Linked DNA regions of Homo sapiens. The protein of the gene in region 4 interacts with the protein of the main gene of each other region in a pairwise test. Each region holds a gene or a part of one and is shown on either strand. Other genes may lie near its edges.

Region 1 (3,500 bases), on a different chromosome or scaffold from region 4:
TACCTAGAAAGAGCTCAACCAATGTGAGCTATGATTATTGTCCTTGTTGTGTATTTACATAGAGAAGTTCTAGAACCTTTAGATAAGTTTACATTAAAATGTCATCTATAGGTATTAACTCCAGTTTTTTTTAGCAACAGTGGAAGTTCATAGAGGTTAAGTTAAAAACTGGAATCAAGTTTTTATGAACTCCTAGTTCAGTGCTCTTTTCACTATATCAAACATTTCAGTTATGATTAGGATATACGTGTGTGCATATATATATATATATCCTGAATATGTGTGTGTGTATATATATATATATATCTCCTGAATATATATATATCCTGAATATGTGTATATATATATCCTGAATATATATATATCCTGAATATGTATATACATATCCTGAATATATATATTTTTATATATATATATATCTTGAATATATATATATATATTCATATTCAGGAACATGATCCTTTGTGGATAATCAACCATGACTTCCCATTTATCATTAATTAAGAAATGATTAGATGTTTCCAGAGTGTCTTACCTTTGGGAGCCTGTATTTTTCTCTGAGATGAACTCTGAGGCATGCCCTTTCTGCCTTTTTCTGTGTAAATGCAGCATCTCTTTCCATCCTAAAAGTTAAAGAATAAAGGATCAGAAGGATACAGAGAGCTAAGGACATTCCTGCCCGTGCTCAGAGGAGCCAGACACAGGGTTACACCTTCTGAGATGCCACTGCTGGCAGACACTTGGGAACTATGGGATTTTTTTCCTAGGTCCCCAAACGTCTGCCTCTCTGTTTGTTACTCTACTGTCATAACTTTCAGTATATACCTCTAAGTCTCAAAGACAATTTGGTCCTAGGAATCTCTGTGTGATGCGAACCAGGAGATTTTTCCTAACATGGAGTTTTCCGTGGACTGTTCAGCCAGGGACCATGAGCCTCAGAATCACTTGGTGCACCTATGACAAATGCAGCTTCCTGGGCCTGATCCTAGCCCTGCTGCATCAGAATCTCTGGGTGCAGGGGAGGGGAAGCTACATTTTTAGCAAGCTCCCCGAGTGATTCTTACGCAAACTAAAATAGGGCCACAGTGTCCAGAACCAGGCAGTTCTTTGAAGACCGTTGTTGTTGGGGGATATAATATAAACCTGTCTCCCTTCATTGTTACTCTCTCCAGACCCCAATTTAGGTACGGTATTTTCTTCCCAGTTTGGAAGGAGGTAGCCCCAAACAAGGCAGGGTATGTTTCCAGAATGTCAGACTGGGGTCCTGCTGTGTGAATGATCTAATTGAACTCATGATGTTGCTGGTTTGAAATGGACGTTCTTGCTAATGATGATTCAGACAAAAGCAGACACCTTTGGGAATGTCTGCAAGGCTCACAAGCACCACCACCCGTCCCTGCTGCCCACAGAAGTCCTTTATTGGTAGCTGAATTTATATACATGGCCCTGCCCTCTGGCTATATTGGGTTAGACCAAGCTCCGTAAATGAAATCTCTTTGAAAATTTGGGAATGGTACTAAGAATGACAGACACTTGCAGTGTGGCTGTCAAAATAACAGATGAACTTGGTAGCCATTGGCTGTCATTTTCCACTAACCTTGTAGTCTGGCTGCTGAGGAAGAACAAAGCAGCCATGCCCAGATAGAAGCAATGGTAAGAGATAGGGAAAGAGTGCTCGTGGCCTCTCAACAGCCTTCTGCTTTCTGGTTTAGGCCCACGTGAGGCCTGATGGGAATTCTACTTGTGGATCTGGTGAACTATCTTTGCATAAAGCATTATCTGCTTAAAACAAATCCCCTGTTTTCATTTTCAGGTGAAAACTGGTTTCTATGTCTTGACTCCGAGTTTGTAAATAATCTTAACCATTATACAAAAAAACTGAGTGTTAAGGAAGGAGCTGCAGCAAATGATCAGTTTAAACTGATCAAAGGCCCTGGGCTCAGGTGCTCTCTGAACTCATTTCCATCCACAGAATGTCAGGTCTGGAACGGGCATGAGAGAACATCGGGTTCAACCTTCTAGTTTTGGAGAGGGACATCGAATAAAGTGACCTGTCCAGGAGATTAGCGACCTGCGGCATGGACAAGCAGCAGACCTTTTCTCCCCATGTTTTACTGTAAAAACTTCCAAACATACAGAAACGTTGAAAGAATTTTGATATCAAATCCATCTAGATTCTACAATTGGCATCTCACTGTACTTTTTTTTTTATCACACCTATTCCTCTCTTTATCCACATTTTACTTTTTTGATACATTTCGAAGTTGCAGAAATCAGTAACATTTCCCCCAAACTCTTCAATATGCATGTCATTAACTAGCGTGACATGTTTGTTTATAGTTTCTCTTTTCTTCTTGTGAAGCAAAATTTGTATCCAATGCAATGCACAAACCTCTGAAGCACACCATTCAATGATTCCCCAAAAAGCACACACCTGTGTAACCCAAAAACCCTCTCAAGATAGAAAACATTACTCTCACCTGGGAAAATTCCCCCATCCCCATTCCTGATCAAGGCCTACCCCCTAGCCCTAGAGGCAACCACCACGCCTTTTCTACCATAGATTGGTTTTGCCTGTTCTAGAACTTCATAAAATGGAACCATACAGTTCATCTTTGTGTAAGGCTTCTTTCACTCAGCATAAAATACTTTCGAGATTTAACCTTGTTGTTTTATGTACTAGTAGCTGGTTCCTTTTTATTGCTGAGTAGTAAGTATTCTATTGTTTGCGCAAATACAATCACCATTTGTCTAGTCATTTTTCTGTTAATGAACACCTGAATTGTTCCCCATTTGGGGTGACAGTAAGTAAAGCTGCTAAGAATATTGTTCTAGATTTTTTTGTGGACATATATTTTAATTTCTACTGGGTAAATAACTAGGCATGGAATTTGCTGGGTTCTACGGTAACTTACTGGGATGCATTTAGTTTTATAAGAAACAGCACGACCTTTCTCCAAAATGGTCATACTAGTTTATGCTTCAACAATTGAAACAAGAGTTCTAGTGGTTTCACATTTTGGCCAATATTTAACATTTTTTGTCTTTTTGATTTTAGCCATACTGGTGTTTATGGAGTGCTACTTTACTGTGATTTTAATTTTTTCCATTTCCAAGACAGCTAATGATATTAAGCAGCTTTTCATGTAATTTCCAGTAAGATTTTCATGTACTAATTGGCCATGTATCTATCTTTCTGAAGTATTTCTTCAAATCTTTTGCCCATTGTTTTTGCTTTCATTATTGAGTTATAGGAGTTCTTCATATTTCCTAGATTCCAGTCCTTTGTCAGATATATTTTCCAAATATATCCTCTCAGTCTGGCTTGCCCATTTATTTTCTAAATGGCATCTTTTAACGTATAAAAGTTTTTAACTTAGAGTTGAATTTATCATTTAATAATTTTATGGTCATTGATATGGTCATTGCCAATCTGGGTCATGATACAGAAATCTTCATCTACTTTCAAGTTGCAAAGATATTCTCCTACTTTTTTTTCT
Region 2 (3,500 bases), on a different chromosome or scaffold from region 4:
GTCACTTTTATCTCTTTAAACCTTTGAGTCAGTGAGTCACAACAGAATTCAAATGTAACCAAATGCACTCATCTCAGTCACAGGCAGCCTCCTTGGAAGTGAATGATCAAGGAGGGAATTCGAGATGTTTCATTTTGTGAAAATAGATAGCTTTTCTGAGAGCTCACATTGTTAATATTTCCCAAAATAAATCAAGTTATATGTGCAATTAATTTTGGCCATCTGACATGAAAATACTTATGGAGTATAATAAAAGACCACACACCTTAACCTCTATGCATTTCCTTTTGCATTAATTTTATATGGAAAAATATATACTCACTGAGGTTGTGGTTGTCCTTTTTTTGTCTCTCTTTTGCTAAAGCTCTAGTGTCAGTTTCTGATCAAAAGAAAAATAATAAAAACCATGCTTAGTTCTACCTTAAAACCCCTCCAGGCAACATAATTCAGAACTCCTAGGTGAAAATAAAATATTATTTGCTCCAAAACGGTACAATAATATTTTTGATGCAAATATTCAGAAATTTGGAAAACAGTACTCTTCAGTGAAAGGCAATGGCAAAGCTTTTAGGCTCTGGGATAATAAAAACTGAATTTATTTTCTGGCCCTCCATTTAATAGCCATGTGATCTATTGCCACACTTCTCTGTGTTTCAGGCTCTTCATCTGTAAAATGACTATAATACAATACCTACCTTAAAATCATTGTGATAACCAAAAGAAATATAGTATACAGAAAATATAGTATTCAATTATTATTTTCAGAATTTTGAGATTCAGAAATTATTCCAACCTAAATATTTTATTAGTAATTATTATTTCTACATCCCAAGAGTTGCAACTCACTATATTTCTCAAATATCCATATGAAACACTTCCACACTTTCTTCCAGTAAATGGCACTTCCCTGTATATATGGTGTGGTTGTATTTATATGACCATCAACCTCCAGGATGGCCTACAATGATTCTTAATTTGTAGTATTCACACCTTGTAATTCCCTCCCACATTAAATAAATAAGGCTGACCTGTGAAGCCACTAGCTTGTTGTGGAAATGACTAGTATGGTATCCAAGGCTAGATAATAGGAGAAATTTTTAACTTTCACATTGGCATCTCTTTGATCTCTAGTTGTCATGTCATGAGGACACTCAAGCAACCCTATGAAGAAGTCCAAGCAGTCAGGGACAAAGACCACTTGCCAACAGGAAGCACTATCCTACAAGAACTTGAGTGAAACACCTCGGGAGTGCATCCTCCAGCCTCAGTCAAGTCTCAGGTGTCTGTACTTCTGGCTGACATCTTGACTACAGCCTCATAAGAGATTCTGGTCTGAACGAATTCACTAGGCCACTCCTGGATTCTTGATGCTCAAAGACTGAATGAGATTATAAATGTTTATTACTTTGAGATTATAAATGTTTATTACTTCAAGTTGCTAAATTTCAGGGGTAATTTGTTGTTATGCAACAAAAATAATACAATATTATTAGAGTTATAGTTTAAAAAGTTAATAAGATAATACATTTTATTTAAATGTATTTATTTAAAACTATAGTCATTAATTTTAGTCTGAATAATTTGGATGCATAGACATTTTTGAATTATTGATTGAGCTTTAAGAGTGGTCATGTTGTATTTATTTAAAATTTTACCGTGGTGTTTGAGCTCCAAACCAAAAGTTTATTGCAGAAATCTCAAGTGAATTTATTTACTTTATTCTTACGGAGGATCTAACACTGGACTTGGAAGTCAGGAAACCCTTACGTTGATCCAGTTCTGCCTGTAATCAGCTGTTACACCTTTAGGAAAGTAGCTCCTTTGACCCTGGGTTGATTTCCTCATTTATTTTGGAAGAATTTGACTATGCTCCTATAATTTGAGTTGTAACAATTAAAATAAACTATTGAAAACTCAGGGTTTATTTTCAATTAAGAAAATTAAATGTGAGTCTATCATGAAATCCATAAAACAAGCTAAAAAGAAAAAAAAATCCAATATTTGTTTTTTATCAAATTCTGCATACAAAGAATAGACTAATTTCTCTAATTTATTATTTCACTTTGTAACCATGTTAATAAATGGCATCTATTTAATATAAAAATGAGCCTATGTTAAATGAAGCTGTCTTTTATATATGTATGTATATATGTGTGTATATACATGTATATATGTATGTAAAACATATATGTGCATTTGCTCAATTTCCAAAATAATGAATCAATTCAGTCAAACTATAAGTTATTTTAACTTACTGCTTGATTATCATAAAAAGAAAAGATGAATTTACTGTCTGCCTTCTTTTTTGTAACTGTTTTGTTATACTTTTAAAATCCTAGTTAGCACAATATATGTCACTCATAACTTATGTCATTAATAAAAATAAAAAGGGTAAAACTATAAAAGCAACATTACCTGTAATTTCTCTTTTCATTGGTAGACTACTTGGACAAGAAGCACTTGTAAGCCCCATGTTAATTGGTGAAATTCCTTGTTCACCGCTATACACATCCAAAATACTTCCAGATAACTTGAGAGGAAAAAGGAAGAAAAGATTAATAAAAACCTTCTGTGCAAATTGATATATTTAGTTATATATATTACATTTTCCACTTTAAATGTGGCATTTTGTTAATAATAATTTCTAATTTGGGGCATTTTGCTTTTAAACAAGACGAGTATGCATTAACTTTTTAAAAGATGCATTATAAAATGCTTACAGATAAGATGCGCTGAAAAAAAGTTATATGTGTTTAAGCAAAAAGAGAAATCAGTTCATGTATGAAGGAAAATTCCTATTAATATTTACAAAGTTATGGAAGTTTGATCCAGCATATGACCTGGTTATAAATGGATGTAATTAAAAATATTATTTTGGACAAAAATCAATATACATCTTTGCAAAGCTGGAAAGTTCACCACATCCCACAAATTAGGTATAACGGTTGAACATTTTGGGACCCTTCTTAATACCATCAGTGCTACCAGCAACTCACAGTCAAGAGGTGTTTTACACTGTTAATTAAATGAGAAACTCTTCCCTTCCTGGAAGGCATACTTTTTCTCATTGTACACTTAATGTTCTAGATTATTATAAATATCCCAGCTGGTAACCAAAAGTAGTCTAAAACTACTTTTGCCTCTAGTGAATATAGGGTACATCCAATTATAGCAACACTGCAATTCTTGAACTGCTTCTTGGGAACAATTTTTCAGAAAACCTAAGTTGCTTTATACACAATTCAAAATTGCACCAATTCATTATTCAAAGTGTGCTTATTGATTTGATTTCCCAAGAAAATAACATTTAAGTAATATTCATATTTCAGGTTAATACTCATTATTCCAGAACAAGCTGCATTCACTATGCAGGATTTGAAATTTTAAGATATTTCCATTGTGAGTATCTTTCTTCCACTTCTGTGCAATAAACCAAGAGCTGAATAAGAAGCAATTTTTTTTATTTCCTCAATGACTAGGAATAAAACATATAATAAAAC
Region 3 (3,500 bases), on a different chromosome or scaffold from region 4:
TAAAACAGATACAAGTTCAGTTTTGCTTTTAATTTTTATTTTCATCCTCATAAATTAAGCAGTTTTGTAGCAGAATAATTCAGAAGCAGTAATTGTTAGTTTCTATGCCTAGCCAATATCTACCCTAATTTCACAATAATGGTTTTAGGATTAAATTTTGTGAGATTTTTCCATAATGCTAAACATGTGTTTATTTTTAGTCATACATTTTTAAAGTTCAGGCTCTTAATTAAATATTGACAGTGTAATTTGGTGGAGTATACACATTTTGGCAAACAGTTGGCATTAACTGTATTTGCCAATATTAAATTTAGTAACAGATCAGGCACTTGGCCAGCAGGTGAGGAAAGTTTGGTCATGTAAAAAACTGAATACAGGAGGAGAAAGAAAACCAGATTCGTTAAGCACCCACAATATCAGATCCATTAATTTTTTTATCTCCATAATTCCTCAGTGAAGTTGGTAAGTATTCCTGCTCTACAGGTGGGGAGTCTGAGGTCTAGGTATTTTAGGTAAATTGGCTTGGATTACATGTATGTCTAATAAATCCAGATGGATATTACCACACAGCTTATCTATACTATTTCTAGTAAACTGCATCCTGTGATAAACTTGTAGAGAATCTTACTGTTGTTTTTCTTTATACTCTTCCCTGGTTCCCATAAATCCAAGGATTTAAAGCCTCAAAAAAAACATGCCTTTCGGCCAGGCACGGTGGCTCACGCGTGTAATCCCAGCACTTTGGGAGGCTGAGGCAAGCGGATCACTTGAGGTCAGGAGTTTGAGACCAGACTGTCCAACATGGTGAAACCCCATCTCTACTAAAAAAAAAAAAATAAAAATAAAAAAATAAAGGCCAGGCACGGTGGCTCATGCCTTAATCCCAGCACTTTGAGAGACCAAGGCGGGCAGATCACCTGAGGTCAGGAGTTCGGGACCAGCCTGGCCAACATGGCCAAACCCTGTTTCTACAAAAATACAAAAAAAAATTAGCTGAGCTTGATGGTGGGTGCCTGTAATCCCAGCTACTGGGGAGGCTGAGGCAAGAGAATCACTTGAACCTAGGAGGTGGAGGTTGCAGTGAGCTGAGATCTCGCCATTGCACTCCAGCCTGGATGACAGAACGAGACTCTGTCTCAAAAAAAAAAAAAAAATGCTTTTATGGCTTTATGTTATACTGCCCAAAATGGTGGCCCCAGGTGGCTAATTAAAAGTAAATTAATTAAAATTAGATATAATTAAAAATTGAGTTCCTTAGTAACACTAGCCACATATAAAGTGCTGAGCCCACCATGGCTACCATTTTGGACAGTGCACTTTGTATATTTTCATATTGTGAGACTGGCGTGCCACCTACTGCACTAACAAGGCACCTCTTAGAGTATTTCTGTCTTCCCAGAGAGTTGTTGAAAACAACACTGATTCTAAAGGTCAGAGGAGGAGAAGGAGGAAACTCCATTTATTGAGCTTAGTATCGCTAATTTTCAAACAGCCCTATGAGATTGCCCAAAGCCACATATCTAGTAGGTGGCAACACTAAAAATTAAATCCAGATTTTCATAGCTTCAATCCTTCCCATTGTATTACAACATAGTCTATTCAGTTTCACATGTTTACAGAATCATAAGTTTTGAAGACTCAAACAGCTAGTATAATTTTTAACAATTTTATTTAATATTACTGCAATGGAACTTTACCAAAACAGTGCTTTTATTTTTTTGGAATGGCAAAAAATTATACACTTGACTTTTTGATAGTTTATTTTGCGTTGTTGAACCTTGCAATACTGCTGCTCCCTTATTCCAGGTGGAGTATTCTTTGACATATACCAAAGCTATATTTTTTCCAACTTACCTTTTAAATTCCACTGAAAGAAAAAAGTCACGTAAGAAGAACCCCATGAGATGCCTAATATTTAGGAGGTTGGGGAAAAGAACACATGTACCTTGAAGTGTTTTTCCTCCATTTTAAACTTTATCTTCAATTTGTTCACTTTTATTTAACACTTTAGTTTGCAGAATTGGAAACTCTGTGTTTGCAGAGTTGCATCATAAAAACTGGACCCAATCTTACCTATTTCTTCATGGATGTCCTAAAGTTGCCACTGCCCACCTCTCATCCCAGCTTCTTGCTTTGAAGCCAACTGGCTTTGTTGTTTGGGCTAATGCCCATATGCATCTATTACCTACCAGTAAGATAAAAGGATTAGCTAGGTTTTCTGATGATTTTTTATATTCTGCTCAAATTTCTACTAGTTATTTCTATTATAACTACTTAGTTGGCTCTGAATTCAACATCATCCCGTTGTTTTTAATCTTTGAGGGAATCGTATTTGTGTTAAATCCTAAAGCATATTATAAAAGGATAGCTTGAAACCAGAAGCTGTTATTCAGGGTGGAAGAAAGGAGTAGATTTAATAACATCTGGAATTAGCCATTCAAGTTCTTTTAATTGTTTTTTCAACACTCTGACATAGACCACTCCTTTCCCTGTGCACCCAAGACAGACATGACTGTATAACTCCTGTATTCTTTTGGAGCCTATATCCAGTCTCAGGATCTTTAATAATAGGATTTCAGCTCCATTTTTAAATACTGAGGAAGACTTCCCTGGATTTCATTACAGTAAAAGCTTAAGAGATGAGAAATGGAGTTAACTGAGTCTTCAAAACAGATGTGTTCCTATCCTCATGGAGTTAATAGTCTATTAAGGAAGAGAGGCAGTAAACAAGGATTTCAGTATGTAATTATAATCTGTAATATGCTATAAAAGAAATTAATAGAATGGGAATAGAGGGTAACAAAGGACTTTATTTAGATTAAGTGGCTAAGCAAGGTTACCTTTTTTATGTTAGATTCTCGAGAAAAAGGGCTCGACATTTAAGCAAAAACCTAACAGAGCCAGCCATACAAAGATTGGGTATGAGAATGTTCTGAAGTGAGATTGTTACTATGCTTTCTATACCGAGCAAAGCCATCTAGCAGTAGATCTAGAACTGATCATACTAGAAACCTCTTTAACACTGTTGATTTTCAGATTTTACTTCAGCCTTTATCTGATTAGTATTAACACAATATTTCATTTTCCATCCCTTTTAGTCAATCTGTGTTGTTTTATTTTTCTCACATTAATGACATATAGCTGGATTTTTTCATTTAATATTAGCACTATGTCCTTTAATAGCTTAATTAGTGTATATGTTTTGTGATTACGGGTATATTTAGGTTTATTTCTATCATCTTATTTTGTGATTTCTCTTCACCTTACTTTTCTTTGCCTCTTTTCCCACTATTTTTCCTTCTCTGATTGATTTTTTTATTTCTTCCATTTTCTCTCCTCTACTGATTTGGATGTATTCTATTTCTATCCTTTTAGTGATTTCCTTAAGTTTTTGCTATAGATGACTATCCTATGCTTCTGAACAATATAAGAATTTTAGCCAAACATCATTTTAGTGTCAATTTGAAAAAGCTGCCTCTTTAAGATACTTTACTGACATT
Region 4 (3,500 bases):
AGCTCAATGCTCAAGAGTTTGCATGGGGAAGTCAGGCCTGAGTTCAAATGATAACTTCTATTTTTTGGCTTGTGCACCTAGGACAAACTGTTGAGCTACTCTAAACTTCAAATTTATTGTATGTTAGTCTAGGATAATAATAAAAGTAGCAACTTTGTAAGGCTGTGAGTTTTACAGGGGAAGTGCATGTAAAGCCCTGAGCACACTGCCTGACCCAGAGTTCTCAGGAAATGCTAGAGAGGAATTAAGCAGGTAATGTGCCCAGTGCCACGTGAATGCTATAGGTAGAAAGTGCTACAGGAGTTGAGAGGAGGAAATGGACACTGTGGTGGAAGAGATGGGAGAGCTCCAGTGGAGAAGGCAGAGTATGCACTAAGCTTAGAAAGAAAAGCAGACCTCAGATTAGGAGGTGAGAAGGCATTCCTGGCACGGCGAGCCAAAGAGCAGCAGAGGAGGACTGTGGATGCCTTGCCTGTAGACTACTTTTGCTGCCACTCTTTGTATATTTATTTTTGCGTATGTGCTCAAACATTTTCCCAAATGCAAATTGAAGATATTCATCTCTAGAGATGCTTATTTTCTCATTTGAAAAAACTGTGCTCCCTCTCTCTTTTCCATGGCTTTTTGCTAAGTCTATATGGCATCTATAATTTTGCTTATGGAGTCAGCTTGATTAAACCATTTTGGGTCAGCATGGAGAAATAGGTTACAAAACTGGCTGTGCATCATGATCACCCAGGGAACTTTTTAGTCCTGCAGATTTCTGTGTCCCACCCGAGATTCTGACTATTGGGTCTGATGTGGGACCAGAGAATATGCATTATTTTAAAAGTTCCTTTAATTTTCATTTGGCTTGGTCAAAAGTTTGAAAAACACTGGTAATCTTTAAGGCCCCACCCAGCTCCAGTGATCTGTATTTCCCATAACAGTAACATTTTTATTCTCTCTGCTATTCTCAAGAGAGGGTTACTGTGTTGTCAAGAGAGAAAAACTAAACAAGCCAGACATCAAAAGCTATAGCTACCAACTTTGATGTGAAGAGTCCTTTCTATATGAAATTGTATAATTCCAAAAAATCCAGGTGGGAGTGTTCCAAGGTCCTTATGCTGACGGGAAGGAAGGACAAACACTGGCCAACTTTATACTTTGTTAAACATGTAAGTCGAGATTTAATAGAGTCTACAACTTCCAAACCAGTGGAAGGGGGAAAATGAAACCAAAGGAAATGAAAAAATAAAAGATCTCAATACGAAAAAAGAGAGGGGGAAAAAAGCGAAACATAGAAAAAAATGAAACAAAGAACAAAATAAGATGCTAGAAGTGAATTCCAATATATTGATAACTAAAATCAGTGCAAATCACGGTACAGTTAAAAAACAGATCAATCTAAACAATATGATGTCTAACATTACATCCGTATATTGGAAAACCATGAGAAAAAGCAAGAAGATGATTAGCCCAAAATGTATGATACGTTTATCTCAACAGGAGAGAGGGCTCCTGGGGTGGGCACCCAGGAAGCTCTAAAGATACGATAGTGTTCTTTGAAGTTTCTTTAAGTTCTTTAAGTTGGGTGGTAAGTAGACAGGTATTCTTATTTTTTTTATTCTTTTAAGCATTATTTTTTAAAGTTCACTATATTTTTTGTAGTTTTGTTTGAATAATATAATACACCCCCCTGGCATGCGTGCATCGCACACACACTCAAAAAAGGATAAAAATAAATTGCCAATGTTTTCCTAAAGCCCCACTCTCATATTATTAGATGTGAATTTTTAATGTGATTTTTTGTTCTTTAATGACGTGATTTTTTTGTCATGAAAGTTTTCTCCCCAGCACAAAACTCTGTTTTGAATTAATCTTGTGACCCAACACTCCAAACAAGTCTTCACATTGATGCTTTTTGTCATAATACGATAATTCCTATATAGTTTCCCTTTTCGTTGAATTACATAAAATAATTCATTCAATTAAAACCTTATAAGCTTTTTATTGAGCAATGATCTTGTGTCAGATGCTGTTTTAATCATTGTATATGAATTAATCCATTTAATTTTTATAAAAACCCTTGGGAATGGTACTAATCCTGCCCTCATTTTAAGCCTGAGGTAACTACAGCACAGAGAAGTTAGGTGATGTGGTCAAAGGCACACAGCCGATCAGTGGAAGAGCCAGGATTGGAACCCAGGCAGCCTGGCACCAGAGCCATGTTCCTGACTTTGTGCTAGGCTGCTCAGCTGTGGCCCGTAAAGCATCTTACTACTGAAGAGAGTGAAGGAGGAGTAGGAGGGTACCTCTGGACTTCAAGGGCCCCTCCGTAGTATGTCATGTCTGACCATAAAGCTACATATATCACAATTACATCATTCTTTGGTTGTTAAAGGAAAGATTTTTTTTTTTTTTTGGCCAGGAAAGGAAGAAAGGGAGGGAGAGATGGAAGGAGGGAAGGAATCCAAAGGAATCCAACAAAAATATTGGCTGATTGGCTGGCCGTGGTGTCAGAAGAGAAATAAAAATCTGCTGATCTCATCTTTATGCTGTTTCCAATGAACAACAAAAGGCAAATGTTCTTCGACAGAACAGCACAAACATACTAGGTGGCTAAACTAGAGAACAGGTACTTCAGAGATGTTGCCTTAAGCAGATGCTCCCCGGCAGTGACCCTGGGAAACAGCTGTTCCAAGCCTCCTCCACCTGGAGGCCAAGATCTCTCTCCAAACACATCTCAGAAGAGATGCACAGTTTATCTAACAGTTCATACTTTGAGGGGGTTTGCTCTATGTTAGCAGTTAAACATAAGTCCTCCCCACGCACCTCCACACCCTAGGCTCTGTAGTCTTGGAGAATTCATAGAGAATGTGGAGATGTCAGGAACATTCAAACAGGTAACTGGACTAATTCTTAAAAGTGAGGGGTGTGTGTGTGTGTGTGTGTGTGTGTGTGTGATAGATCCTGGAAAATATTTATCACTTAGTTGCCTACCAATCTACATAAATCCAGAAGAAAAAAACTAAAAGGAATGTCTTTTGAGTATTTAGCCTCAATGCTCAGACTATGACTGCTGGGAACCAGCAGGGTTCAAAGAAGAGTTTGTGTGATGCCCAGATTACTTTAAAAAAAAAATTCTCAGCATTAACAAATATGAATGAGTGTCCAGAGGTACGCATCTGGGAACTAGTAGATAAAATTCAATATGTGTCTCCTGGAGAAAAGGCTAAAGAAAGACAGAAAGCGTTAACTGTCTTCAAAAACCTGAAGGGCATCACATAGAGAAAGCACAGACTTTTCCTGGGCTATTGCAGAGGATCACACAAAACAAATGGAAGAGTACAACAGGCAGAGTTTGGATGCAAGCCTTCTTTTCAAGTAAATGAAGATATTTATATATTTTTTTGCTTTTTACTTTTTTGGAGATGGAGTCTTGCTCTATTGCCCAGGCTGGAGTGCAGTGGCACAATCTCGGTTCACTGCAACTTCGCCTCCTGGGTTCAAACAATCCT

What was found.
Region 1: the proteins of LPAR3 (region 4) and CPLX4 interact in binary tests that used the Homo sapiens proteins (3 or more experiments, as listed by UniProt).
Region 2: the proteins of LPAR3 (region 4) and TFEC interact in binary tests that used the Homo sapiens proteins (3 or more experiments, as listed by UniProt).
Region 3: the proteins of LPAR3 (region 4) and PGRMC2 interact in binary tests that used the Homo sapiens proteins (3 or more experiments, as listed by UniProt).

Annotation. Positions count from the first base shown.
Region 1 is NC_000018.10:59,312,150-59,315,649, forward strand, and holds part of CPLX4 (complexin-4), read right to left. Parts: intron 624-3,500; coding exon 536-623; intron 1-535.
Region 2 is NC_000007.14:115,954,264-115,957,763, forward strand, and holds part of TFEC (transcription factor EC), read right to left. Parts: intron 2,531-3,500; coding exon 2,416-2,530; intron 380-2,415; coding exon 323-379; intron 1-322. UniProt on the Homo sapiens protein: Transcriptional regulator that acts as a repressor or an activator. Acts as a transcriptional repressor on minimal promoter containing element F (that includes an E-box sequence). Binds to element F in an E-box sequence-specific manner.
Region 3 is NC_000004.12:128,281,314-128,284,813, reverse strand, and holds part of PGRMC2 (membrane-associated progesterone receptor component 2), read left to right. Parts: intron 1-3,500. UniProt on the Homo sapiens protein: Required for the maintenance of uterine histoarchitecture and normal female reproductive lifespan. May serve as a universal non-classical progesterone receptor in the uterus.
Region 4 is NC_000001.11:84,816,707-84,820,206, reverse strand, and holds part of LPAR3 (lysophosphatidic acid receptor 3), read left to right. Parts: intron 1-3,500. UniProt on the Homo sapiens protein: Receptor for lysophosphatidic acid (LPA), a mediator of diverse cellular activities. May play a role in the development of ovarian cancer. Seems to be coupled to the G(i)/G(o) and G(q) families of heteromeric G proteins.